2 linked regions of the Homo sapiens genome follow. The protein of the gene in region 1 purifies or fractionates together with the protein of each later gene. This does not show direct contact. Each region holds a gene or a part of one and is shown in the gene's direction. Other genes may lie near its edges. The genes, in order: SYNJ1 and ADAP1.

Region 1 (3,811 bases):
AATTAGGCTGGGTGGGGCCCATTTGTTCCATCCTCAGATACCCAAGTGACAACCATGTAATGAGACTCCAGCTTGGGGGCAGGCTGTTGAAGTAGGGGTTCCCATCTTAAGACTTCCCTCTTCTCTGTGAAGTGTTGAAGTGATCTGCAGGAGTGGGACAGCTCACAGTTTCAGGAGGGTTAAGGAGTTTTGCAGTAAAGCTCCTGAAGAGCAAAGGGTGAGGGGAAGAGCAAACCAGCAAATCATGGAATTGCCAGGCACTTTAGGCCAGAAGAGACTGAAAAGCATAATTTCAAATGTGACTGCAGTTGTCAGGACTGGGTGGTTTTCTTTAGCAGAGGCAGTCAGCAATCCAAGTGTTATCACAGAAAGATTAAACAGGGGAATCAGTGCAGGGATGGGGTTATGTCAAGCACGTGCAATGGAAGAAGAGTGAAGTAGGGTAATGTTTGAGATGAAGAACCATAGAATCTGAAGGTAGGTACAGAAGAAAGCAGAATCAGATGGAGGTAAAAGTTAGAGGGATCAAACCCTGGCTTCTGAAGAAATCAAAAGAGAAGGAGTAGCCAAGGGAGAGAACTGAAAAGCTGGGAGGCCAAAGTCAGAGTGAAGCTTTTGAGTTTATTATTTCAGAAGAGTGCAGTTCTGAGGGGTGAGGGTTAGGAGTGAAGGCGAATGTCCATAAGGATAGGACCAAGGCATTTTGCTATTGAACGAGTTGTCCACATGGACTTTGATGCCACGCAGAAAGATGGTGCGGGACCTGACTTACAGTCTTGCTCTCTGCTTAGTCCTCAGTGAGTGGGTTCAGGAAATGGAAGAATGGACGTTGGAGATGACTGTAGCAAGTGGGGGTAGAGGATGTTACATAAATTCCTGATGGCATAGCCTCAGAGCAGTAGGACTTTTTGTTCAGGGTTGGAAGACTAATGTTCTGGAATGGCAGTTAGGTTGCAAGGGTTACCTTGTGCCCACTTTCCTACCCAGAAGTAAGTGGAGATGAGGAGACCCTGGGGGAGAACCAGTGTTTACTTAATTAAAGCAAAGCGGGTCTTTGTGGGGTGAGGGTTGCAGGGAGGAGCCTTCTGGGGGAAGACTGTGTGGCTCCTGAGAGCTTGTTGACTCTGAGGCTGGACCTGGGTTAGGCAAGGGAGTGGGGCAGTTCCACAGAGCACAGTGGACAGGTTTGGAAGGAGAGCAGGAAACTTGAGTTGGCTTGCACTGGAGAAGCTGCTCTGGGGCATATTGAAAGCCCATTGGGTCACCCCAGCTCCAAGTGGTTGGTCACCTGACATCTTATTGCTCAGAGACAATAGATACCTTTACATCTTCTGAAACAAGCATTTCTACTAATTGTGGTTTTATACATGCCTTCATGCTTAATCCATGTGTGTTTGCAATGACATAATGTTCATATTTGTTTTGTGTATTTTAACTTTTTAAAACCTAAGGTGAAAAAAATCTCTGAGCAAGTTAAAATGGAGTTATCTCTGATCAAGCCTGCTTTTCCTTAGGTGATGTTGATGACTATAGTGCTGAAGTGGAGGAACTTCTTCCTCAGCATCTCCAGCCATCTTCAAGTTCCGGCCTTGGTACTTCCCCCAGCTCTTCACCCCGAACTAGTCCCTGCCAGTCACCTACAATATCAGAGGGTCCTGTACCTTCCCTTCCCATCAGACCAAGCCGAGCACCGTCAAGAACTCCTGGGCCTCCCAGTGCACAGAGTATGCATTTTATTTGAAAGTTTTGTATGGCTTCCTGTGGCCAATGTGCTTGATGTTGGAGAGTCATCGTTTAAGTTTCATACCTAGGTGATAAAGTGCACCCTGTTTTCTCCGGTACAGAATAGGAAAACTTGTAGATGATAAGCTCTCAATGGAAAGGAAACTTGCTATAACTGTCACTAGATGACAATTGTTCTTAATCTTTTTTCTATGTGGTTAGGTTTGTCTATGTCTTATAACTGATGATTTTCTATGGTATGAACCCGTTAACTATTTGAGCTTTTTCTTCTCTCTACTGGCCAGACTACAAAATGGCTTAACTCAAACAATACTTTGTGCATATCAATAGGGCCACTTAGTAAATTAGCTTTCAGCACCTGAGGCCTAGGTAAGAAGTCAGCACAGAGGTAGCATTATTGCTGCCATGGTACCAAAGGGCAGTTTAATAGTAGACTGCTTTTGTTATTCATACTGAAAATACATGCCCTTTCTTTACACCATTGTGCACATTTTATAGAACATTACACATATATATGAAGGACTGTTCCCTTCTGTCAACAGCTACTTAGAAGCTGATCTTCTTACCTCCTGTGCGCTTTTTAGGTTCTCCTATTGACGCGCAGCCAGCAACGCCGCTGCCGCAGAAAGACCCCGCCCAGCCCTTGGAGCCCAAGCGGCCGCCGCCGCCCCGCCCGGTCGCCCCTCCCACACGCCCGGCTCCCCCACAGAGACCTCCTCCGCCTTCAGGTGACAACCTTTTATTTCCATTTCTGCTAGATGTAAAATTCTTCACTCTATTTTAAAATGTTTTGCATGTTTTCCAATCTCTAGCTTCTGGATTTTACAGTTTTTTCTATCATTATTGCTATTTCTTAGCTTTTCTCTAAAGAACATGGTAGGCGCAACAGACAAGGTAGAGTGTTTGCAGAGTAGATTCCTCTAAGGTGTTTTCACAGCTGCCTTTAGCTGCCTTCTCACCAGCCAGCCAGAGAGGTTTATTTTGTTTTTGCTAATTTGATCTAGTTAGGCATGTAAACTGTTCTTAGGTAAAATTAGGTTTAATTTTTTTCAAAATCCTCATTTCTGGATGATTTATAAGCATAAAATAATTAAAATGTACTAATTTCTGTAAAAGTATAATAAAACTGGAGAGCATACGTATTAATGTACAATTGTATGTATTTGTTTAATGTTCTTTTAAATTAAATATAGTGCTGTTACTTCAATTATAAGCATATGCATTGAATAATAGTTTTTGTAGTACGTAGATAATATGTAATTCCTGCATGATACTTGATGTCATGGATACTATAGCAATCTTTGACATTTCACTTCTGTATTTAATGTCATTTCCTTTCTGCTGCCTATTTTCTTATGAACTATAAGGGGCTAGGAGTCCTGCACCCACTAGAAAGGAATTTGGAGGTAACCATTTACATTTGTTAGCATGTGTGAATCGTGGTTCATTAATGTTTTACACCTGAAAGACATTTTAGATTTGTTTGATAAAAGTCAAAATGAATGACATTCTAGTTTAAAACTAATCCACAAATAAAACTAATAAAGGCTTTCATTTCCCAGGTAGGCTGGGATTGTTCATCAGGCCTAATTTTTTTTTTAATAAATGTGGTCGATTCATTTACAAAGATTTAATACCCAAAAGTTATATTAATTTTAAAAGTCATTCAGGTACAGTAAATACAGAACATTTCCCAAGTATCTGATTAGTGATACATTTATTTTCTAGTGGAAAAGCTTTTGGATTAGCAAAGAACTGTATGATTTTCTTTTCCTTTCTTCATAAGGAAATTTTTATTCACAAAGGGTCACTTTTTGTTTGAAGTATAGTTTATTTGGTTTACATGAAAACTCACAGAGCTCAGTTGGAGTTATACATTTGACAAGTTTATTTAATCTAAATCTCAAGAAAAGATGAGATGAGTTTTCACAATTCCTCAGAAGAACTTTTACAAATCCAGTGTTACTAAGGCTCACTGTGCATGTGTAGCCTGGTCTGTTTCTATTGTAGCTTGCCTAGTGACATGGCTGAGCAATTCAGGTCTTACTACAGACTGACTTTGCCTGTG
Region 2 (3,811 bases), on another chromosome or scaffold:
TGACCCCCAAATCCCAGAGGCCGGGCATGACCCCCAAATCCCAGAGGCCGGGCATGACCCCCAAATCCCAGAGGTCGGGCGTGACCCCCAAATCCCAGAGGCCGGGCGTGACCCCCAAATCCCAGAGGTCGGGCGTGACCCCCAAATCCCAGAGGCCGGGCGTGACCCCCAAATCCCAGAGGTCGGGCATGACCTCCAAATCCCAGAGGCCGGGCATGACCTCCAAATCCCAGAGGCCGGGCATGACCCCCAAATCCCAAAGGTCGGGCGTGACCCCCAAATCCCAGAGGCCGGGCGTGACCCCCAAATCCCAGAGGTCGGGCGTGACCCCCAAATCCCAGAGGCCCGGCGTGACCCCCAAATCCCAGATGTGCAGCGTGACCCCCAAATCCCAGAGGCCAGGCATGACCCCCAAATCCCAGAGGCCAGGCATGACCCCCAAATCCCAGAGGTCGGGCGTGACCCCCAAATCCCAGAGGCCGGGCGTGACCCCCAAATCCCAGAGGTCGGGCGTGACCCCCAAATCCCAGAGGTCGGGCGTGACCCCCAAATCCCAGAGGCCGGGCGTGACCCCCAAATCCCAGAGGTCGGGCGTGACCCCCAAATCCGAGGCCCGGCGTGACCCCCAAATCCCAGAGGCCGGGCATGACCCCCAAATCCGAGGTTCAGCCTGCTGGTTCTCACGCACCATCCCCGGCCGGGGGCTCACTTGGGTGCCTCTCCTCCTGGCAGTGACTCAGAGCCCAGGCCCAGCCCCAGCCCCACTGGGCCTCCGCCGCCTGGCATGGGAGTCCCCCACCAGCCAGGGGTGGGCCCCGATCAGCGTTGGGAGGGGGGCTATCCTCCGCCAGGCCTGAAGGGTGGGGTCCTCTCCACTCATGATTCCCCAAACAGGCTTGGGTCCACAGCCGCACCTGCTTGTGGGGAAGCGCCTCGATTTCCACCAGCCTCACCCAGGAGAGCCTCCACTTAAAAATAAAAGCAGTTCAGAGATGACTCATCTCCCCCAGAGAGACTGTTCTCTCTAGGGTGCCTTTCAGCCATTCCACTCCCTTGACTTATTGTGAAGGGTCGTTGGGAGCCAGAAGAAAACAGGAGAGTCACACAGCAGCCCTCTTAGCCATCGCCCCAGGGCGGGGCTGGACGCTCCCCACATTTTGCCGTTTCAGAATGAGACATTTCACACGTGCAGCAGCAGAAAGACTGCGCTGTGGCACCCACACCCTGGGCAGTGGCTCACGCCTGTCATCCCAGCACTTTGGGAGGCCGAGCAGGTGGATTACTTGAGGTCAAGAGTTCGAGGCCAGCCTGGCCAACATGATGAAACCCCATCTCCACTAAAAATACAAAAGTTAGCCGGGCATGGTGGTGCGTGCCTCGCTACTCGGGAGGCTAAGGCAGGAGAATCGCTTGAACCCGGGAGGCAGAGGTTGCAGCGAGCCGAGATCGTGCCATCATACTCCAGCCTGGGCAACAGACTATGTCTCAAAAAAAATTCTGCTCCCTCAGCCTCCCAAAGCGCTGGGATTACGGGCCTGAGCCACTGTGTCCAGCTTTGTTGGACCTTTTAAGGCAAACCAGACATCGAGACGTGGAATCCCTAGACAGGCCACATGCAGGGTGAAGCCACAGCGCCGCTGTCACACCTGCAAAGTTAGTGGCCGCCGGGCGCTGTCACCCCACGCAGGGTGCGTCGTCATCCGCGGCTACCATCCGTCCTTCGGGGGTGTGCAGCGCGTTGGGTGTGAGGCACCCCCTGCACTCAGATCCTATCTGAATTTCCCAATCTTGGCCCCATCACCCAGGAGGATTCGGGCCCACAGACTTCTCCCAGGGCAGCGGACACGAGGAAAGCAGGTGGACCCATCCTCACGAGTGCCGGGTGCCCTCCAGCCCGGGGCATGGGCTCCTGTGGGGCCGGCCTCTGCTGGAGGTTCCCGGCACCCGCGGGGCAGAGCAGGTGCATGCAGATCGGCTTCCTCAGATGCCGTGGGGTGTCTGGGGAGAGCCCCGTCTGCACCGGGCAGAGGGCGGGGGGGGAGCTGGGGTTAGGTGCCTGTGGGGCGCACGGAGCCTGGTGTACCCGGGGGTCTCCGCTGAAGCCCCCCCCACTGCATGGCCGGGGGCTCCTGACTCGAGGCTCCGTCCACCCTCCCTCCGGGGTCCCTGGGCTGAGCCTCCGTGAACGTCCGGCTTTCCCTTGCAGATCCCGACTGGGCCTCCTACACTCTGGGCGTCTTCATCTGCCTGAGCTGCTCGGGAATCCACCGGAATATCCCCCAGGTCAGCAAGGTGAAGTCCGTCCGCCTGGACGCCTGGGAGGAGGCCCAAGTGGAGGTACGGAGGGGGAGGGGCGGGGGGACCCGCGCAGTCCCCGGGTGGCCTCAGCCCGGGCCTCTGGAGCCAGAGATGCCGGGCGGCCTGGCTGTGGCCCCTGGAGCCTTGGGCTACTCTGGGGGCCTGGCTGGCTGGACCCGAGGACCCCGCCCCCTCTCCAGCGGCTCCGCCTGTGTGGCTGCTCCACCCACCCCGTGCCGGGTCCAACCTCTCTGTGAGCAGCTCCAGGTGTGTGTGGTGGGCCAGGGAGCGAAGGCGGGTCGCCGATTCCCGTGCCCTGGGAGCTCCGGAGTGCTCCCCTCAAATCCCCACACCTGGAGCACTGGGCTCAGGGTAAAAGAGACCCTGTCTCTAAGGAAACAGAATGCAGCGTCCCAGGCCGCGCGGCACGACCCAGAGTCAGGGTCGCATTTACACGGCAGTCCACGTGCACCCCGGCCCGCTGCCGTGTAGGGCACCATTACCTGTCCCCTGGGCGGCCTCTGAGGTGACACAGCCACTGCCCACCTCTCACCCATGCATCTGATGAGGCTTCACGGAGCACTTGGCATGGCCAGGCAGGGACACCAGCCACAGATGCTTCGTGGGGCCCTAGAGACGCCCCTATGGGGAGGGAGACGGGTGTGAGCCAACCAGGAAGCCCTGGCGTGCAGGGAGGGGCCACGCATGCTGGAGGCGGCAGGAAGGGCCCCGTAGGGAGACCCCGAGGGAGGTGGAGAAGGAACAAGACCCCGGCTGGGGGCTGCAGGTCGGATGGAGCGTGGGGCCTGAAGACCCGGTGGGAGGGTCACCCCAGCCCCACTCGTGGGACTTGGGGTCTGGAAGCCATTGATCTTCCTGACTGCTGTGAGTGGGACCGAAGGGCCGCATGGAGGTGAGAGTGGTGGTCTGGGGGCTGCTGTGGGGATGGGGAGGGTCGTAGAGGCTGGTGGCCTCCTGTACATGTCTCTCCCCTCTCCAGCACCATTGACCCTGGGCCCCCCCTCTCCAACACCACTGACTCTGGCACCCCCTCTCCAGGACCACTGATCCCAGCCCCTGGTTCTCCAGCACCACTGACCCCGGCTCCCGGCTCTCCAGCACCACTGACCCCAGTCCCCGGCTCTCCAGCACCACTGACCCCGGTCCCCGGCTCTGCACCACCACTGACCCCGGCCCCCGGCTCTCCAGCACCACTGACCCCGGCCCCCGGCTCTCCAGCACCACTGACCCCGGTCCCCGGCTCTGCACCACCACTGACCCCGGCCCCCGGCTCTCCAGCACCACTGACCCCGGCTCCCGGCTCTCCAGCACCACTGACCCCAGTCCCCGGCTCTCCAGCACCACTGACCCCGGTCCCCGGCTCTGCACCACCACTGACCCCGGCCCCCGGCTCTCCAGCACCACTGACCCCGGCCCCCGGCTCTCCAGCACCACTGACCCCGGTCCCCGGCTCTGCACCACCACTGACCCCGGCCCCCGGCTCTCCAGCACC

The links.
Region 2: the proteins of SYNJ1 (region 1) and ADAP1 fractionate together in Homo sapiens (co-fractionation; one large-scale study listed by BioGRID). This does not show direct contact.

What each region holds. Positions count from the first base shown.
Region 1 is NC_000021.9:32,644,306-32,648,116, reverse strand, and holds part of SYNJ1 (synaptojanin-1), read left to right. Parts: intron 1-1,514; coding exon 1,515-1,724; intron 1,725-2,327; coding exon 2,328-2,471; intron 2,472-3,110; coding exon 3,111-3,149; intron 3,150-3,811. UniProt on the Homo sapiens protein: Phosphatase that acts on various phosphoinositides, including phosphatidylinositol 4-phosphate, phosphatidylinositol (4,5)-bisphosphate and phosphatidylinositol (3,4,5)-trisphosphate. Has a role in clathrin-mediated endocytosis.
Region 2 is NC_000007.14:933,901-937,711, reverse strand, and holds part of ADAP1 (arf-GAP with dual PH domain-containing protein 1), read left to right. Parts: intron 1-2,206; coding exon 2,207-2,337; intron 2,338-3,811. UniProt on the Homo sapiens protein: GTPase-activating protein for the ADP ribosylation factor family. Binds phosphatidylinositol 3,4,5-trisphosphate (PtdInsP3) and inositol 1,3,4,5-tetrakisphosphate (InsP4). Regulates the incorporation of CD63 and CD9 into multivesicular bodies.